3 linked regions of the Homo sapiens genome follow. The protein of the gene in region 1 purifies or fractionates together with the protein of each later gene. This does not show direct contact. Each region holds a gene or a part of one and is shown on either strand. Other genes may lie near its edges.

What was found.
Region 2: the proteins of CLDND1 (region 1) and ZDHHC5 purify together in Homo sapiens (affinity purification with mass spectrometry; 4 studies listed by BioGRID and IntAct, with this or other methods). This does not show direct contact.
Region 3: the proteins of CLDND1 (region 1) and GOLGA7 purify together in Homo sapiens (affinity purification with mass spectrometry; 5 studies listed by BioGRID and IntAct, with this or other methods). This does not show direct contact.

Annotation. Positions count from the first base shown.
Region 1 is NC_000003.12:98,519,892-98,526,776, forward strand, and holds the start of CLDND1 (claudin domain-containing protein 1), read right to left. Parts: upstream 3,012-6,885; 5' UTR 2,965-3,011; coding exon of another isoform or gene 2,958-2,964; exon of another isoform or gene 2,651-2,957; intron 1,813-2,650; exon of another isoform or gene 1,806-1,812; coding exon of another isoform or gene 1,762-1,805; intron 1,552-1,761; coding exon of another isoform or gene 1,534-1,551; coding exon 1,242-1,533; intron 1-1,241. UniProt on the Homo sapiens protein: Plays a role in negatively regulating the permeability of cells to small molecules.
Region 2 is NC_000011.10:57,663,626-57,671,137, reverse strand, and holds the start of ZDHHC5 (palmitoyltransferase ZDHHC5), read right to left. Parts: upstream 3,025-7,512; 5' UTR 2,951-3,024; exon of another isoform or gene 2,542-2,950; intron 1-2,541. UniProt on the Homo sapiens protein: Palmitoyltransferase that catalyzes the addition of palmitate onto various protein substrates such as CTNND2, CD36, GSDMD, NLRP3, NOD1, NOD2, STAT3 and S1PR1 thus plays a role in various biological processes including cell adhesion, inflammation, fatty acid uptake, bacterial sensing or cardiac functions.
Region 3 is NC_000008.11:41,486,726-41,493,605, reverse strand, and holds the start of GOLGA7 (golgin subfamily A member 7), read right to left. Parts: upstream 3,025-6,880; 5' UTR 2,752-3,024; coding exon 2,641-2,751; intron 1-2,640. UniProt on the Homo sapiens protein: May be involved in protein transport from Golgi to cell surface. The ZDHHC9-GOLGA7 complex is a palmitoyltransferase specific for HRAS and NRAS.

The sequences.
Region 1 (6,885 bases):
CAAGTGGTGTCTTCTCAATGAGACCTACTTTAAGTATCCTATTGAAAATCATAACCTATGGCCACCAATATTCCTTTTCCCACATATTTCCAAATCCCTTTTGTGTTCTATTTTGCCATAGCACATGTCATCTTTTAACATACTGAATAATTATTTATTCTGTTTATACTGTTATATTCTGTTCACTGCCTGTCATCCTTTATTAGAATGCTAGCTCCCCAGGAGTAAGGATTTTGTTCTTTCCTGATGTTCTCCCAGCTAAGAGGCCCTGGAACATGGAGACATGCAATAAATTATTTGTTTAATGAATGACTAAATGGTAACACTCCAATTCCAACTCCAATTTCAATATCAAGTGCTCCTGTAACCTCATAAGTCAAACTGAACATTTTACAATGAATTTTAACCAACTTTCTCTCCTTTCCTTCCAAATTATCTTTTTTTCCAGATACAGTGACATATTATCATCCTTTTGATATATCATAACTCAAGCCTGTTCTGCTATGATTTGAATACAATGCTTCCCCACTAAGGGGCCAACAGAAGTAGTCATAAATAAACTGTAAAGTTGTTCCTTACAAAGAGTTCTAAAGCTACCATTTTAATAACTGGAAATCAAAATCTTTAAGTGTTAAATAAGAATGCCTGTAAAATAAACCTAAAAATCTAGTTTTTGGTTTTTTTTTTTTAACTTCTGTAATACAAATTTCTTAACCTACCAACTCTGCATCAAGATTGTTGTAAAACAGTCTCATAATTACACAGATTAAATGTAGAGCTGGTCAAATTATATCCTCTAAGACACAGGGGCAAATGATAGATATGTATTATAATACAGCTAACCCATAAAAGGACAATTTTTTGAGTTGATTTTCGATGGTAGTCCTTTTACTAGTTACCAAATATTTTTAAAAGTCTTTCGATGTACTTTTCCAACTATTTCTTTATAACATGTGTTAGAGTAATGAAAAGTATTTTAATGAGTGAGTAAATAAGAAAAAAAAAAGCCATTAAGGCTTTCCCAAGATAAGAAAAGTTCCTCATCCAACCAATATTGATGAGTACCATGGTAATGCAAAGAAGTTGGGGAGAGAAGGCAGTAGAAAGAGAAGATACACGATTTATTTCTTTAAGGAGAGAGAGAACCAACAAACCTGCTTACATGTAATTGGGCAATCATTACGTCGTTTTGTCTATTATTAACCAGGTGAAGAAGACAGAAGTTAAAATAAGAGAAATACCTGTCCTTTCTGGTGGGCTATACCAATGCATGTTTTTGGGTATGGTGATACACCGTCTCCACAATCCCACTGTGCCATTGTATCGAAAAAGTGCATCATTATAAGTCTTTTCATCTGCCTCATCACTAATGAATTCATCCCAGATGCTTTTATTCAAATCACTGGAATTTTCTTGAACTGGACTTCGATATTCATACCAGAAGTCTGTGCCAATGGAGGCTGCCATGTAGATGGTGGAAATGAGGCTAAGCACACAAGCAATTACAAATGCTGTAGCAAAACGGTTATCCATTCTGGCATTCAGACTGCTCTGTTTAGAAGTTGAAGAAAGAAGATAAGTTAGAGTTTACGGACAAATAAGAAAGATTATTTTGAATTATTCCAAATGCACCCTTTACCCAATTCCCCATCCCTTCGTACATATAACCATTAAGAATTTTTTTTAGAAAGCAAGCATGTTTTTAATTAAGCTTAAAACAAAACTCATTCTCATAAAAGTACTTATTGAATGCTCACATACCCAGGATGCTACGGAGACAGAGGTCTTGTTCTCTAGTCTATCACCTGCATACTAAAACAGACAACACTGAAATGGACATACACATTACAGATACAAACAATAGACATGCCCATGGTCAGCAGTGTACCGTGCACACATTTTAAATTACAGACTGAATTTTTGCACGAGCTGCAGAGGATTAAGTGTTCTGGGTTTGAGTGTTAAAAAGGCACAGGAAAAAGAAGCAGTGGAAATTGGCTTCTCCCAGTTTCCTCTGAAGAGGGAAGCCTCCTAAAACAAAGGTAAGAGTCAGGAGCCATACAGAAAACAGAGTTGAAGATGTTTGTTAACCCCGAGGGAAAGGTTGTTCTAGGTGTATAAAATAGCAAAGAGAACAATAACATGTAATAATGCTAGATAGCAATCTCTCCCTAATCCATTAAAGCTAAGCCAAGCTTCTTTACGCTGCCAAATGCTTCACTCCTATCTACTCTCCCGATTCCTTATACTTCTGAACCTCCTCAACAGAAATCTTGCTCTCTCCCTAAATCCTCAGTGCAACATACGTCCGCAAAAACTAAATGATCCCTCCTCAGCCAGACAGAAAACTCTCAACATATCAACACTCCCAAGGCGTGGACAGGGCTCAACGGCAGTAGTAAATGGCCGCGGTAAAATGACTCAAGGCAGATCGCGCTGAGTCAAATACTACACGGCAAGTATACACCGTGACCGCACCAAACACCTTACAAAGGTTCATGAAAACAGACTCGCAAACTGGGGTTGCTGAGTTTGGAAAATGGGAAGTGACTCAGGAAAGATAAGAGCAATGACAACGAAAACTCAAAAAGTTGGATTTGTATTTTGATTTTTTAAAAATCCCCCCTTCATCCTGGTGCTCTCAAATGACCTTAAAGGGTCCCAGCACTGGGAACGGCGGTTCGTCCAAGCCGGACGCCTGCAGCAGCCACCTCCTGGGCCTCACGGCGGGGCCGGAGAAGGCCAGGGCTGGGGCGGGGCAGCCGTGCTCGGCCCCGGGCCAGGGTCCCCCGGTACCCGACCAGGCCCCGCCCTAGAGGGCTCGGCCCTGGGACAAATCCGCCGCTCGGAACCCGCCCAGCCCGACCACGCCCGGGAAGGGGGCCCCTCTTCAAACCGCCGGGAACATGGAACCGCGACGCGACCCCTGCCCGGCGACGCAGGTCCCGCTCACTCACCGCCCATCCTCCTGCTCCGCCAGCTTCACCCTCTAGCTCAGACCACAGCACCCTACTCTCCCCGCGCCTCCTCTGACGCACTTCCCTGCAGAGCCCGCCCCCTCCATAACTCCCGCGCCTCCGCCCGCCCCCACTCCGGGCCGGGCCGCGGCCCGGGGCCGAGGGGCCTTGTGGGAGTTGTAGGAGGGACAGACTGAAAGCTGTCTGAGGCGGCGATAGGCATTCCTGGCGCCGCGCGCGGCGCATTGTGGGAGATGTAGTTCAGCTCCTCAGGGCAAGCCGGTACGCAGAAGGGAAGTCTAGGCTGTTGGATTCTTGCATTTTAGGGAGGAAGGGAGAATGGTCCAGAAAGTAAAGCGGGCCTGTTTCCGGTCATCTCGAGTCAATGACCGTGACTTGTATAACTTAGATCTGACTTTTAGGCCTGTGCTTTCCCTATCACACCACCCTGCCTCTAGATCTAAGTATAAATGAACAAAAATGGGATTCTACTTGTGAAACGTTGACCCATTTTATTTCCCTCTCCCAGAATCCCTCCCATTGGAGCAGAGCATCCTTCTGGTTTTATTGCATAAGTTTAGGCTAAGAAGTATGTGACCTGGCAGACAGTATCCATCAAGAATGTAATGATATTATTTGGGTTTCATAAAATGTGTTTGTAGCTGCCTTCTTTTTATGACAAGTGATACTAGTTTTCTATTGCAGCAATGTTGTTCCTTTTAAATTCTTTTCACTTATTTTAAAAACTATTAAGTTAATAATACTGAGGATACCAGATATGTCAAAAAATGAATAAAAAATTGTGGGTATAGTAGGAAAAAGACTGAAATTTGGGGAACATCACTCAAGCAGATAAGGTCATGGACAGCATTGGAGATTGCAGATGATGTGTGGCACAGGGGCAACAATGATTCTGAACCCTCAGGTTTAACACAGAAATTCATGGACAGGAAGCAGGGACATCTTAACAATAACATGAGTGGAACTATTAACGTGGCCTGGGACCAGCAAATGGTGGATTTCTCAACAGTAACCGACAGAGAAAGCTGACTCAAGGACCAGAGGGGCTCTCAAACCCCCACTCTGTCCCCTAATGCCTTGTAATTTAGCATAGGAGAAAGATGGGAGCTGCAAGTTGATATTAAATTTCTACCACTTTGACAGATTAAAGGCATGATATGTTTCTCTATCTGTACTTACATTTCTTTGACCTGAGTGGGTGAAACTGATATTCATATGCAGCACATAATAAGGTAGTAGCCAAATATATTCAAACATGACTCTGGATTTTCATATACAGCATATAATCAAAAAAAAATTTGTCAGAGGCACCAACTAGAGAAAGTGATGGAGAGGCACAGGCAAATTGTCAATGTGTAGTAAGACACATAAATGCCCTTATACTCCAGGAAATGTCTTCATCCATTGGCCTTCATTAGAAATCCCCTATTTTCCGCCGGGCATGGTGGCTCACGCCTGTAATCCCAGCACTTTGGGAGGCCGAGGCGGCAGATCACGAGGTCGGGAGATCGAGACCATCCTGGCTAACACGGTGAAACCCCGTCTCTACTAAAAATACAAAAAAATTAGCCAGGCGTGTTGGTAGGCGCTTGTGGTCCCAGCTACTTGGGAGGCTGAGGCAGGAGAATGGCATGAACCCGGGAGGCGGAGCTTGCAGTGAGCCAAGATCACGCCACTGCACTCCAGCCTGGGCGACAGAACAAGACTCTGCCTCAAAAAAAGAAATTCCCCACTTTCAGATTTACCTCTCCACTGAGATCATGTGGTCAGTAAACCAGGCAAAAGAGAAGTTTAAAGGAGAGAGAAGAAACAACTTCAGTCTACAGATAAAGGAACTAGAGAGAGTAACTGACTTGGTAGCAAACTTGGATATTAGAGTAACTGACTACCATGGTAACACACTTGAATATACTCATTTTGTGACTTTGGAGAATTAACCTTCTTTAAGTCTCGGTTGTCTTTTCTCCAAAATATGGATGTTGACAGTAGCATCTATCCCACATGATCATTGTGAAGATTGAGAAAAACATATAAAACGCCCAGCACAGGACCTGAGGTTTAGGAAAGAATCATTAAGTTATTAGTATTTGCAAATATTTGTTGAATATAATATTTGAGTAAGCTTAGTGAGAACAGTCTTTTTTTTTTTTTTTTTTTGTATTCTAATACAGTTCAAATCAGTGTGGCTGGTTCATTTCAACTCCTTCACTACCAAACTAGGAGGCAGGGACTGGCTTCAGTTTTTCTGCCTTCTCTTTTTCACTGATGACCAGGGTATAAAGATATCTGCTGCATCGAACTTTAAACTTCACATTGTCCTTATTTTTCTTGATCTTGACAGATTCAGCATCCTTTCATTGGGCTGTGAACAGAAAGTCCTTGATTTCCTCAATTTTCGGAGGCATGGCGACAAGGCACGCAGGGAGCAGGCGCGGACCGGGACAGCGTGCGGCGACCGGGAAAAACAGGACAGAAAAAGACAGACAGCTTTTAAAGCTCCTGGATTAACCCTAGAGGCTACCCCTAAATGGAGATAAGCCATTTATACAGAGAGGTGTTCCTGCTCGCTTCAGCAGGTTTGAGAAGCTCTGGACTAACCACCAAATGACTAGGAAAAATTTGCCAGGGCTAGTATTTTGGGCATCCCTGTTTAACCCTTCTCAGGAGATTCCCAGGCCTGGGATCGTATCATACACAAGTCGCCATGACTCAGGAGGTGGATGTTTCTGGGAAGACCTGCAAAGGAGGATGACACTTGCACCCTTCAAGTCTTCAGAATGCCTAGAAAACACTCAGGACGCATTTCACTGACCAACCTAGTGTGAACCTGGAGGTGTCTCTACGTGTTTGTGGTTTTGATCATCCTGAGAGAGGACCTGAACGGCCTCTTCACACCCAGTTTCACCAACCACACAACCGTATTTCTGGTTTATCTCTGCATCTTTGGTGTTTCCTAATTTCTATTTATGCTTGCTTGTTGTATGAGTAGGTAAAATAAATCCTTAATTAATTAATGGAGCTAAATTTCTACTTCTGCTTCTTACTCTGCTGTTTGAGAAACGGTAGCTAGCCTTATATTTTCACAAATATGAAAGATGATTTTGTGCAACCATGTAGAGATTATGGAATTTAGGTTTAAAAGCGAAGTTAAATGAGACATCTAGCTTAACTTGTTAAAGATGGTTCTAGTTTCAACCGGAAGGCATTATAGTTATAGCACATTTAAAATAAAACCGATAACTGAAAATCTAGATACTCAGATGTTGTAACTTGTTTTTATTATGTACTTATGAAACAACCCTTCACACTAGAATTTCCATCAATACTAAATTCCCCAATACATTTAATATTTTATTTTTAATTGCACATTTTTAGGAACTAAAAGTTATATCTACATTATAAGATATATTTACATTATGTTTCTTCATGTAATTTTTTTTCTGGTTGTTTCCCTTGTGAACTTTGGAGTTCAGAAAGGAAAAAAATGGGAATATGTACAATTCTGGGTTCCAACCAAAAACCATTTTTAAAAATGTACCTATCTTTGAATTTCCTTGCACCCATTCACTGTAGAACAATAACAGAATCAAGATCAAGGCAAATAGAAAAGTGCACCTAAAATGTCTCCTTTTTTTTTTTAGTAATTCCTGTAAAGTGCCACATATAGTAAAAAACTATAATTTTTAGATGCCCATGCTTCTGAAAGACAGTGAATGACCCATATGTAAATGAGAAGTTTAAGTTTAAATTATCCTTTATTTAAAAATTATCAATGGATCTTTGGTTAATGACCCCTTTCTGGACCCTAGGGTCCTCTTTAGTAAAACAGTTGTACTAATGATCATTAACACCACTTGAAGCTCTAAAATTTTACAGTTTATAATTCTACTGGAAGAAGAATAATGCA
Region 2 (7,512 bases), on another chromosome or scaffold:
GGTTCAGAACTCAAGAGGTCACATGCCCCTCTGGTGACACAAACCCTTTCTACCTTTTCATCCACTACCTGCCCAGAGATGATAACTTGGAATCTGCAAGCCAAAAATTTTAAGTTAGAATTTTAAAAGAAAGTAGTTTTATTCCCTTCTCTACTAAAAATACAAAAATTAGCCGGGCGGGCGCCTGTAGTCCCAGCTACTCAGGAGGCTGAGGCAGGAGAATCACTTGAACCCAGGAGGCGGAGGTTGCAGTGAGCCACTGCACTACAGCCTGGGCAACAGAGCAAGACTCTGTCTCAAAAAAAAAAAAAAAAAAATCAGAAGATTCAGATAACAAAATATAAATGTGCCCTATAATGTACCACTTCCTCTCTCACCTATGGCATGGAAGGCAAAGGTGCCTTCCCTTACGATTCATTTCTCTCTTTAAAATTAGGGTTTCAGAGGGCCAAACAGCAGTATTAGAATACAGTGAGCGCCAAAAGATTCTAAGAAACTGTTATAGTCCTAGAAAACATAAATCCTCTCTAGTCCCTGATTTAATGATTATTTAACTCTCAGTTTCCTACAGGAATGGAAGCCTAACATTTGGAATGTAGGCCTCAGTAACTTTGTTAACAAAAGCAAACTCTTGATTTGTAGACAATATGTACTTTTTTTTTTTTTTTGAAACACAGTTTCCCTCTGTCACCCAGGCTGAAGTGCATGGTGTGATCTCAGCTCACTGCAACCTCCGAGTCCCGGATTCAAGCAATTCTCCTGTCTCAGCCTCCCGAGCAGCTGGGATTACAGGAGGGCACCACCACACCCAGCTAATTTTGTATTTTTAGTAGAGATGGGGTTTCACCATGTTGCCCAGGCTGGTCTCGAACTCCTGACCTCCAGGTGATCTGCCTCCTCACCCAAAGTGCTGGGATTACAGGTGTGAGACACTCTGCCCAGCCAATATGTACTATTAAAGCAAACTTTTCCCTCAAAATCCCAAAGACTAGAAAAGATGGAAAATTATACTACTTAAATTTTATCTAGAGTAGAATATCATTTAGATACTATATATTGTTTCATATATTTTCCACAGGAAAAAAGTCACATGGACTAATATTGACATAGTAATACAGAGTCATGAAAGGCCATGCAATTTTGGGAGTATAATACTGGGAACACAAAAGAGAACAGCATCTGAGATGCTTGGGGGCTACACAGTAGAAGGGAAATCAAAAACCTAACAATTTATTGGGTATAAATAAAGATGAACCAATTCTTAGCAAAAGAATGTGCTGCAGATACTAGGATGAAACCACAAGGGTGAGTATGGTTCATCAGAGTCAACAGTTTGAATCCATACTAGTATCAAAAAAGTATACAAGAATATGTATGCCAGCTGGGCACGGGGGCTCACGCCTGTAATCCCAGCACTTTGGGAGGCCGAGGCGGGCGGATCATTTGAGGTCAGGAGTTCGAGACCAGCCTGGCCAACATACCAAAACCCTGTCTCTACTAAAAATACAAACAAATGAGCAGGGCGTGATGGGGCATGCCTGAAATCCCAGCTACTAGGGAGGCTGAGACACGAGAATCGCTTGAACCCGGGAGGTGGAAGTTGCAGTGAGCCAAGATAGCAGCCACTGCACTCCAGCCTGGGCGACAGAGCCAGACTCCGTCTCAAAAATGAGAAAAAAAGTAATATGTATGCCATATTGAGGCACAGAGTAAACTATGAAATGGAAATATGTATATGTAAAACAAACAATACAGGATATGTGGTTTGAAGGCTTTAATAAGGTTTAATACAGGTATTTCCTTAAATAGGTGGATACCAGCAGTACCAAGGACAACACAACTATTTTTTGTTGAAATAAGCGGTGTAACAGTACAATAGAGTAAATCTAAATGCACAGTAATGGAGGTACCATGGAATAATTCACATGTCAAGGTATGGGAGAAAGAGCCAAGAAGTTTAATGTGGGTGTTATCATTATATACCGAGGTAGCAAAATACATGGCAATATAATTTTGTAAACATTAAGTTTATACAATGGGTGATAATGAGCATTCTGAAGATATTTGATCCAGGACAGAGGTATACTGAGATAGAAGGATGATATGCAAATGTTAGATCAACTTGGTCAAGATGGCATTAACCAGGAAGTGAAGAATCCAAGGCAAAAAATAGTCTAGCGTATAACGTATATGTGATCCTACAACTGCCTTCCTAACTTTTAGCAACTTTCTTACTTCTTATTTCAGTGTTTCATTTGGCCAAGTGGGTAAAACACTTTCCACCTGCCTGCCCCAAATATAGGTAAAATATTGACAAACGCATTCGGGCTCCACTTTAAAAAGTACAAAGTACTAAACGCATGGAGCACTCGGCTGGTGGCGGTAGGAGGAGGAAGCGGACGGGTGAGAGAGAACAGGTAACAGGATGAAGCTTGAGCCAAAATAAGTATCAGCAGAGTGGAGCGAGGGACTCGAACCGCAGAGCGGTAAAAGGGAAACAGCACCCGGTCCCCACCACGGGACTGGGGAAAGGAGAATCACCCGTTGGGGCAGGGCTGACGACCGCTGAAACCGAAAAGAAGGAATCCACGGCGGCCAGGCCCACCGAGGTTGAGAGAGCGGGCTGCGGGGACCGCAGAGCCCGAGGGCGCAGGGCCGGGGGCGGAAGGGGCGGCGGCTGGGCGCCAGGCACCGGGGACCGCGGTCTCGAGCTGAGTGGCCGTCTCTAACCCGTTCCGAGCCCTGGCGGTCGTGGATCCCCGGCCTCTACTCGTCGTCCGTTTCCAAGGCCCATGGGTCCCGCCGCGGTTGGAAGACCCGGCCCGGAGGAGAAATAGGGCCTTAATACCCTCCCCGTCTTCGGTCCCCCTTCCCTAGAGGTCACCCTCCCCTCCCACCTCGCTGGTACGGCACTTCCGGTTCCGCAGGGACCGGTGTCCTCCGCACTCACCCGCGAGCCCGGTGCCCGTCACCACCGCCGTCGTTGTCACCGCCGCCTCCCGGCAGTGCCGTCCTGCCTCAGAGAAGCAGCGCGCGGCCCCCGCACGCTCCACGCCCGCCCCGCTGCCGCGCGCTCCCGCCAGGCGTCGCTCGTCTCGGAGCCGGCGCGCGGCCGTTGCCCTCAGTGCCGGGTCTCGAACCCTTCCAGCGTTCCCATTGGCTCCCTAGTCCGGGCTCGCGCGACGTCTCGCGCGGCGCACGTTTGTCTCATTCATGCGGCTCGCGCTGCCGCGCCCAACCCCGCTCACTCTCCCATTCACCCATAGCCCCCACCCCGACTCCGATCTGGGGCGTGCGCGCGAACCCTGGCGACCGCGGCGACCTCGCGGCCTGATTGGCTGCAGCAACACAACGACGTACGCACGCGAGAAGACGAGAGCGCGCACGTAAGGCCGTGGGGTTGCGGGGACAACTAAGAGACAAGGATTGGCCTAATGCACAGGAGTCAGGAATGAGGAAATGGCCAGGCGAGTCTTCCCTTCTCCTGCGTCCTGTTGTATTCCCACTGAATCCAAGCAAAAACCCCCGGAAATAAGAAAAGAATTATGTGTGTGTACTAGAAGTACTCAAAAGCAAGCAGCTACCTTCTCGAATTCAGCAACCCCTCTCCTACTGAGGTGGTACAGTCCAGACAGGCTTCCAGCGCAGCCAATTACCGACGACTATCGCCGCTTCCTGCTTCAGCCCCTTCGCGGCGGATTGGCCAACCATTTGGCGACTAGGCCTCCCTCTTCTCCTTCCCATCTCCTTTTTTTTTTTTTTTTTTTTTTTTGATGGCAAAAACTTTATTTAAAACAATCTTGCTGGAGAAATCTTCAGTCCGGCGAGGTCGCTGGTCCGGGCAGAATCCAGGGCGATGGAATGGTCTGGGCTGTGTCTCCCACATGAAGGGGACGCCCGGACTTGAAGAGCCAATGTAGGGCGAGGCTCCTGCCAAGGGCCGGGGAGGGAGATGAAGAAGAGCAGGCGCCAGCCTTGGAGCCGTAGCGCTAACCGTGAGAGGGAAGCCTAAGGAGCGCGCGACCTGAGGCGGTGGCAGCACCCTCCCGCCCCCGGAGTGCGAGCCGGGAAGTGAACTCCCTGAATTCCATTAGTTTCCCACTGTCACACGTGGGATGGGCGCCCGCATCCCTCACCTCACCCAATCCTAGAATACAAAGCTAAAAGCAAAAGGTTCTCTAGAATAGCTACTGTCCCTGGCGAGCTAACTCTGCATAGGTCATAGTGCTACGCTTTGCCCTGATTAGCCCAAGACAGCTGTGAACCCAATAGCAATGCCCCATGTTCTCTCCCCATTCGGCTCGAGGCTATTTCTTTTTTCGAAAGCAACTCTAGCTATTACATAATGGTCCCTCAAAAAGGTGTTTCACAAGCCACTTCCCTGAAGCCGAGGCCCCTCACCTGTAAAATCCTGAGGACTGTCCTCGGGTTTGGTCTCAAATGTTGCTGGCTTTACTGTGGTTCTGACACTAGCATTAGGCAGTAAGGTAAAAGAGAACTACCTTCTGTTTTCTGGAATCTAGTTCCTTCTCTGACATGGCATATATTATAAGTTCTAGTTTATTCTTGTTAACAGCGTCAATCCAGCATTTATTGCAACACACTTGAGAGTTCTTTATAACGACTTTATATTTTTAAAACAGACCTGGCCTGGCGTGGTGGTTCACACCTGTAATCCCAGCACTTTGGGAGGCCAAGGCAGGCGGATCACGAGGTCAGGTGCTCAAGACCAGCCTGGCCAACATAGTGAAACTCCCTCTACTAAAAATACAAAAATTAGTCGGGCATGGTCGGGGGAGCCTGTAATCCCAGCTACTCGGGAGGCTGAGGCAGGAGAATTGCTTCAACCCGGGAGGCAGAGGTTGCCGTGAGCCGAGACCACACAACTTCACTCCAGCCTGGGCAACAGAGCAAGACTCCGTCTCAAAACAAAACAAAAACCTCTTTAGACCATATGAAAGGTAAATTATTGAAGATACAATATTGATATTTTATTTTTTACTTTTTGAGAGGGAGTCTCACACTGTCACCCAGGCTGGAGTGCAGTGGCGCGATCTCAGCTCATGGCAACCTCCTCCCGGGTTCAAGCAATTCTCATGCCTCAGCCTCCTGAGTAGCTGGGATCACAGGCATGTGCCACCACACCTGGCTAATATTTGTATTTTTAGTAGAGATGGGGTTTCACCATGATGGCCACATTGGTCTGGAACTCCTGACCTCAAATGATCCTCCCACCTCGGCCTCCCAAAGTGCTGAGATTACCGGTGTGAGCCACAGTGCCCGGCCTGATATTGGCATTTTCTACCTGTAAGCCATGTTTCTTTAAGATGAAGTCAGCTTTCATTTTTCTGTTGCAATATTTTTCTTGGATTTTTAGACTTCCTGATTTCCTCCACAAATTAGGCATTTTTATTTTCCTTTCAGCTGTCTAAGAACTTGTAAATAGTGGTGTCTCTTGGCTAGACAGTGCTAAATGGAAAAAAAAAATCAGTCTTCCACCATCCAACCAAACTAAACTCCCCTGGGATACTAACTTGGATTGCCAAGCTTTGTTAGGTGGATGAGCACTAACAGAGGTATAATCACTATCCCAAAGTTGAAAGACAGAGATTCCACTTGTCCAGTTTTCCTTGGGATCACTCAAGATATTTCTTGGAAAGAACGTTTAATAGAACATATGGTTTAAAGTGCCAGCTACTTCTGAAAAGTATCCAGAGTAAAATCTAGGCTAAAACAGTATGATATCCAGACCACCCAAACTTTAAATTACTTTAATATGTTAATGGCTTCTCTCATCTGCGCATCTTTGTTCATCTTGCTCACCACACTCTTCGGCTGCCTGGACTTAGACCCTCAGTAGCATGGGCACCTAAGCACACAGAAAGCTAGAACATGCATTTCCCAATTTTTGTGTTTTTAGGGTTTCACCATGTTGGCCAGGGTAGTCTCCAACTGCTGAGCTCAAGTGATCTGCCTGCCTCGACCTCCCAAAGTGCTGGGATTACAGGTCTGAGCCACTGCTCCTGGTCAACCTCTTTGTGTTTAAATACTGCTCTTTCCTCCTGTCCTTGTGAAATGTCTCTGTATGTGTTAAAGGGTAGTTCTTCCCTTTGTGCTGTGGATCCTATCTCCTTCGCTCCTGCATTTTTTCTGGTGCTGGGGGATGGAGTCTTGCTCTGTTACCCAGGCTGGAGTGCAGTGACGCGATCTCAGCTCACTGCAACCTCCGCCACCCATGGACAATTAATAGCTCATATTTAACACTGCCAAAAACCTCGAGTTTCCCTTGTCCCTCAGGGGGACAACTCCCTGAGTTTTCCCAATCTCATGTCTAACCTAGTGTGTCTTGTTAAAAAAAATCCAGGATGCATCCTTGATTCCATCGTTTTCCTCACCACTCCGTTATGAAGTCCTGCCTTCAGAATATCCTCTCACCAGCTCTACCTCTGCTGCCCTAGTATTTCATCCCCCACCATTTCTCACATTTGCACTTTTACAAAACTCTCCTAATTACTGTCCTTGCTTTTACACTTGCCCTATAACCCACTCTCCACAAAGCAGTGATCTTTTCAAAATGTAAAGTAATCAGCCAGGCTAATCCCAGCACTTTGGGAGTCCGAGGCGGATGGATCACTTGAGGTCAGGAGTTCGAGACCAGCCTGGCCAACATGGCAAAACCCCATCTCTACTAAAAATACAAAAATTCGCCAGGCATGGTGGTGCATGCTACTCAGCTACTCAGGAGGCTGAGGCAGGAGAATAACTTGAACCCAGGAGGCAGAGGTTGCAGTGCACCGAGGTCATGCCACAGCACTCTAGCCTGGGCAACATAGCAAAACTCAGAAGGAGGGAAGGAAAGGGGGAGGGAAGGGGAGGAGAGAGGAGAGGAGGTGAGGGAAGGAAAGGAAAGGAAGGAATAGGAAGGAAGGGGAAGGAATGAAAAAGAGAAGAAAAAAGAGAGAAGAAAAAGAGAGCAGGAAGGAGGGAGAGAGGAAAGAGGAAAGGAAAGGAAAGGAAAAGAAAGGAAAGGAAGAAAGAAAGAGGGAAGGGAGGGAGGAGATCAGCCGGGCGTGCTGGCTTACGCCTGTAATCCCACACTTTGGGAGGCCTAGGCGGGCGGATCACCTGAAGTCGGGAGTCGGAGACAAACCTGACCAACACGGAGAAACCCCATCTATACTAAAAACACAAAATTAGCCGGGCATGGTGGCGCATGCCTGTAATCCCAGCTACTCGGGAGGCTGAGGCAGGAGACTCGCTTGAACCTGGGAGGTGGAGGTTGCACTGAGCCAGATTGCGCCATTGCACTCCAGCCTGGGCAACAAGAATGAAACTCTGTCCCCCCCCAAAAAAAAAAAGATCAAATAATTACTCTACTTAACTACCCCTCCCCTCTGGTTCCCATTGCTCTTAAGAGTAAAATCCATTCTTAAACCAGGTGCTGTGGCATGAGCCTGTAGTCCCAGCTACTCAGGAGACTAAGGTGGGCGGATCACTTAAGCCCAGAAGTTC
Region 3 (6,880 bases), on another chromosome or scaffold:
ATTCTTCTACCCAGACCAAGGGTAACTAAGATATCTGTATTTTAAGGCTAATGAGAATAAAGTTTCCTTTAAGGAATTGTTCTGGCAACAAATCGCTTAAGCATCAAAGTATTACATTCTAAAAGGCAGCAGAGAAAATGAACTTGTTAACAGACAGAACCTATCCTACTCCCAAATTAAAGGGCACAAATGTGTGTGTATTTTTAAAAAATGCTTTAAAATAATACAAAACACTTGCATATTAGTCACTTTCTCTATTATGTTGCCAAGTGTGATGTTCTCACAAAAGGAAAATCAGCTCCAATAGCAGAGCAATCAGTAAAATTTCTAGGGTAAGTAGTAGAGAAACAGAAACCTTTCAATTTTTCATCAAAGCAAGGAAAGTTTAAACCTGTAATTTAAATTTAATCTCAACACACATACACAGACAATCAAAGCTTTTCTAGTGGTTTAAAGCATAAGCTAGTGTTTTAACCCAAACATTTAAAAAGAAAAAAGAAATTCAAAGGCACAATTGAAGAGTGCCATGTAACATTCCATATAGTACTCAGTACCACAAGCAGTTCTGGGCTATACAGAGTCAAAGAGGTAAAAGGACTCCAGAATTTAGAAACATCAATTTCCTGACAAGAATCAGTGGAGCACAGTAACTACATTGTGCTTTTGCACTTAGATTACAAAATAAAGGCTCTGCCACACACAGAGTGGAAGGCTAATGTCTGATTCTGTGTATACACATTTAGCTCAAATATATGAGGTGTAAGTGTTGCTTTAAAACCTTAAAGCAAAGGAATCTTTAATGTCCAAATAATTGTGGTAAAAAAAGAATACTTTATATTCTGATTTTGAAGTACATAAATTGTATGTCATAGTTTCCGTAAGAGGCTTAAAAATAAAACATTTGATTGATTCCATGTATATCTTTTTATTTGATTTATTTTTTGAGACAAGAGTCTTGCTCTGTCGCCCAGGCTGGAGTACAATGGCATGATCTCGGCTCACTGCAACCTCCGCCTCCCAGGTTCAAGAAATTCTTCTACTTCAGCCTCCTGAGTAGCGGGGATTACAGGTGCCCGCCACCATGCCTGACTAATTTTTGTATTTTTAGTAGAGATGGGGTTTCACCATGTTGGCCAAGCTGGTCTTGAATTCCCGACCTCAAGTGATGCACCCGCCACGGCCTCCCAGAGTGCTGGGATTACAGGCGTGAGCCACCGGGCCCAGCCAGATTCCATGTCAATCTTAACATGTAAAACACATCAATTGTGATGTTAAATTATTTTAAAACAACATTCAGTAGCTCTACCCAACTGGCCACTTGCTGAATTTCTACCTCTTCAAACCACTGTAGATAGTTCCACCTATTGTCACGCTCAGTTAACTCATAACATAGTTGACAACATACTGCAGCATTTAAATGGCATTTCAGAAACAAGTCACCTCACCATCTTTTAAAGGCATATTTGATCCATTTGCAATTCAAGAAACATATTTGGGCCATGAAGCTGCCCATGGTTATGTCAAACTGAAGGAAACTATAATGGATCATTGTTGATTTCCCAACCATGGAAATCGGGCAGTGCAACCCACCTCACTGCAAACTGACTGTAAATAACTGCTACACATTTCTCTACACAGACTCATCCACACCCACTTATCCCATGACCAGCATCTCTCAGTCCCACACCCAAGGAATGCCTAATCACCTCTCAGGCCCTCGTCCTCCCTGTCACAGAGGAGAGAGCCACAAAACCTGCTTCCAGCTAACCAGAAATTGATCCCTGAACGGGAAACACAATCTACATAACATGGGTCAAGACCAAAAGAATCTTTGGTTGAATGTACATATGTGGGCACACAAAAACACAGGCAGGCACGCACACACTCCATTACCTCTACAACAAGATACAATGATTTTTTTTTTTTTTTTAAAGTTTTGCTAGGTCTGAAGGGGAAGCAAATCCCATTCTTCCATTTTTGCCTGCAATGTTGCCCAAAGGACCTATATCCTGATGACCATTTTGATATGCAAGACAAAACAGGTGGCTCCCAGTGAATGTGACAAGTTTAAGGCCTTGTTCTGAGACATTTTCCTGTCCAGGCCTATCTAACGCCCGACGTCTTTAAGGTTCCAAGAAAGCCTGAACGCACCGCCTGGCCATGCACCTAATAAACCCTTTCAGCCAAACAGTGCGGCCAGCACAGAGGCAGCAAACACCAGTCACGAGAATGATGATGATTTATCTTGCGCGGAGAGGTAGGAGGATATAGTTTACAACCTGGTGACTGAGACGACCTGGAGCCTCAGGAATTGGCTCCTCATCGCTGCCGACAATAACCCGGGGTGGGGATTTGGGGGAGTGCAGCAGGGGAACACTGCTGGATCCAGATTCCCGGCACCGGGCAACAAAGTTCCATAAGGTCGTCAACCCCGGCGATCGGCCTATATTATTCTTCCTGCTCCAAACACCTGTCTTGCTTAGTGGCTCTCTTCTTACACGTTTGGCCAAGGCCCCTTCTGTGCCTGGACCTCCCCAGAACTGCGGGACCCTCAAAGGCCCGGTTGTCGCCCACACCCTTCCCGTCCCCGGTGAGTCTCTCTCCCTCGCCAGAGCAGGCGTGGGGAGCCAGGTTGCGTACCCGGTTCTCCAGCTCCGCAGGGAACTTGGTCTGGAACTGGCAGCGTGTGCCACTGCTGTAGTCTCGCTGAATGAACACCTTTCCGGACACCGGCGCCTGCTGCGGCCTCATGGCGAGGACAGGACACCCCGCGCTGCGGGGTCGGGGGAACACCAACCGCGAGTCAGAGCCCCGGCCTGGACCCGGGACTCTGACCCGCCAGCCCCTCGCCCCCACCCGCCGCCGAAAACAGCCCAAGGCCTCCTCTGCCCCGCTCCCCTTCACCCATGCTGTCACCGCGGGCCTTAGCTGCCGCCTGGCCCAGGCCCCGCGCCCCCCACAACCCGGTTCGGCCCGGGAAACACAAACCCGCCTCCTCTGCCCTCCAGCTGCTGTCGCACCGCCTTCGCCGTCACTTACGTCCTGCCGCAAAAAGCCTCTTCCCCGCCCCTCAGCTCGGCCTCCTACCTCAGGTCTGGGACCCACCCTCTCCTCCGGCCGTAAAGCCACCCTGCCGAAGCTGCGCGCTGTGGGGCTGGGCCGAGGAAGGGAAATGATGTGGGCGGGGCCAGGGCCGACCCCGCCTTCCGCCCGCGCGGGGATTGTTTCCGGAAGGAGAGAGGCGGGGCGAGCTGTGGGGCTGCGGCCGGGGCGAGCTGTGGGGCTGCGGCCGGCGCGAGCGCGCGGGGGTGTGAGGGGCGGAGTTTCCCGGCTGTGTCACTTCCCTAGTGATTGTGGCAGGTGGTTCCCGATCACTGATTGTGAGGGGTCATTTTCGTTCTTGATTGGACGTCGCAGCTTACGTGTGGGTTATGCCACCCAACTCATACACAAAACAAAAAACAAAACATAAAGAAAAAACAACACCCCCTCCCCAAACCCTCAAACACAAACTGCTCATTGTGTTCAGAAGTAGAAAGCAGGCTCCAAGGATGGATCCATTTGGTCCCTAGACTCTTGAGAAAGGGTCAGGAAGTGAGGACGAAGAACCTGCCTGGGCCCCAGCGTTGGGCGCCCCTGCCCCGACTCTTCTTTGGGGGCGGCGTTCCTCTCACCCCCCATTTCCACCCAGCTCCCATCCACATCCCTCAGGTGACCAAGGGGACAAGTGGTTCCGCCCTCGTTGCCCACTGGCCCTTACTTGACTCAGCATTTCTTTGCAAGGCAGCCAAAGAAACCCCACCTTACCCTTGTCTCCTGCTAATACAACCTGTTAGTACCACTGTCTTTTATATATTTAATATAGTTTAAATATCCTGCCTTTTAAATATGAAAAATTCTCTTACTGTATTTTAAAAACAGCTTTTTCGAGATATAAATGGCATACAATAAACCACACATTTAAAGCAGTGGATTTGATAACTTTGGACATATGAATACACCCATAAACCACTGTCACAATCAAGATAGTAAAGCTCCATTGCCCTGAAAAGGTTCCTCCAGCTCCTGTGTAATCTCTCCCTCCTGCCTCTCCCAGACCCCATTTCCCAGGCACTGATCCACCTTCTGTCACTCAACATTAGTTTCATTTCCTTGAATTTTATATAAATTGAATCATATAGTGTGTACCCCCTTTTTTTGCCTGGCTTCTTTCACATAGACTATTTTGAAGTCCATCTGTTGTTGTGTTATCAATAATTCATTTATTTTTGATGCTGGATAGCTATTCCATTGTATGGCCATCCCACAGTTTGTTTATCCATTCATCTGTTGATGGACATTTGGATTGCTTCCAGTTTTGGGATGTTACAAATAAAGCTGCTATGGACATTCATTTGCAAGTCTTTGCATAGGTGTGTAGACCTTAATGCTTTCATTTCTCTTGGGTACATACCTAGGAGTAGAATGGCTAGATTGTACGGTAAAAACACGTTTAACTTTTTGGCAGACTGACAAACTGTTTTCCAAAGTGGTGACACCATTTTGCATTCCCACCAGAGTTCCAGTTGCTCCACATCTTTGCCAAGACTTGGGTAGTAATATCTTCTGCAGCTATAATTTTCATTTTTCCATGACTAATTATTTTGAACATATTTTCCTGTACTTATTTGCCATCCATGTATCTTCTCTGGTGAAGTGTCTATTTAAAACTTTTGCCCATTTTTTTGTTTGTATTTTATTTTCCTGTTGTTGAGGGGTTTTTTGTTTTATTTTGTTTTGATTTACATCTTTATTGGCTGGGCTTAAGGTCAGTTTTAAATTTTTAAGGCACTTTAATTCTTGGATTTTTGTATGTTTAAAGATGTTTTCCTGAGGCCTTTATACTTGCGTGAGAACTTGGCCGGGCTGTTTTTGAGTTTTGAGTTCTTTATACATTCTGGAGAAAAATCCTTTATCAGATATGTGATTTGCATGCATTTTTCACAGTCTGTGATTTGTCTTTTTACTCTCTTAACACGTTAGGGGTTTGAGGGGATTAGGGTGTGGACCTCTTGGGGAGGGCATTTCTGCCTCCCATAGGTATAGAGTGAAACTCTTCCCTCCCCCCGTATGATTATGCAGTTGTTATTCAGTTGTTTACGTACCATTTGTTGAAAAGACTCTCATTTCTTCACTGAATTGCCTTTGTATCTCTGTTGAAAATCAGTGGGGGCCGGGCGCGGTGGCTCACGCCTGTAATCCCAGCACTTTGAGAGGCCGAGGCGGGCGGATCACGAGGTCAGGAGATCGAGATCATTCTGGCTAACACGGTGAAACCCCGTGTCTACTAAAAATACAAAAAATGAGCCGGGCGCCGTGGCGGGCGCCTATAAGTCCCAGCTACTCGAGAGGCTGAGGCAGGAGAATGGGGTGAACTCGGGAGGCGGAGCTTGCAGTGAGCGGAGATAGTGCCACTGCACTCCGGCCTGGGCTAAAGAGCGAGACTCTGTCTCAAAAAAAAAAAAAAAAAAAAAAAGAAAAAGAAAATCAGTGGTGTGTGTGTGTGTGTGTGTGTCTGTCTGTCTGTCCCTCTGTCTGCCTGTTTTGGACTTTCTATTCCGTTTCATGATCTGATCCTGTTTTGAATTAAATGTCTACTAGTGTTTGTCTCCGAAGTTGATGCTTCCTTACTAACTCAGTAAGATCTCCTAGGAGCTGGTTTTCTACATATTTGTTACTAGGGGTTGAGAACACCCTTAAACAGGTAAAACAGTCTCTACCCTCAAAATTTCAGTCTAATGGAGTGAACGAAGAAAACAATTTTCATACATTGTATATTTGGAGTATTTTCCTGCAGCCCTTGGCCACTGAGACTAGGTGGTAAAACAGACTATTATTATTATTTTTTGAGATGGATCTCACTCTGTCGCCCAGGCTGGAGTTCAGTGGCACGATCTCGGCTCACCACAACCTCCGCCTCCTGGGTTCAAGCCATTCTCCTGCCTCAGCCTCCCGAGTAGCTGGAATTACAGGTGCGTGCCACCACACCCAGCTAATTTTTGTATTTTTTTGCGTAGAGACGGGGTTTCACCGTGTTGTCTAGGCTGGTCTTGAACTCCTGACCTCGTGATCCACCCGCCTCGGCCTCCCAAAGTGCTGGGATTACAGGCGTGAGCCACTGCACCCAGCAAACAGATTATTTTTGAATGAGGAAATTTGAGGGCAAATATAACCCAAGGAAAACCCTCTTCATGTTTGGGAAGAGGATCGATCCCAGGTGAAAGAGGAATCAAAGGACGATGAGCTGTATTGTTATCGTCTTCCCTCATCCCTAAACACACTCATGTGTCTAGATTCTAGTTTTGCCATTAAAAGTAAAACAGCAATTACTTTTGTACCAACCAAATAGCTTCTGGCAGTTACCAGCAATCCTTGGAATTCCTTGGCTTATGACAGCATAACTGCAATTTCTGCCTCCATCTTCCCATGGCCTTCTTCCCTGTATCTTCTCTGTGTCTTGAAATATTTCTCTCCTTATAAAGAGCACTATTCATTGGCTTTAGGGCCCACCTAATCCTGTCTGACCATCTTAACCTGATTACATCTGTAAAGACCCTATTTGCAAATAAGGATCTGGGGTTCCCGACTGACATGGATTTTGGGGGACACTATTAAATCTAGTACATCTACCTTGTAGAGGGTGTCAATGTGATATTGTATGTAAAACACTTAGAATGTGTTTGGCACATAACAAATACTGTATGGTACTCTGTTTTTTTTTTAAATTATTACATCATTAGTGACATAGTCAAATGATTTGCTAACATTAACATCATGATAGCAGCAGCTACTATTCATTGGGCTATTAGTGTTAAGGAACTAGGTTGAGCGGTTTATATGC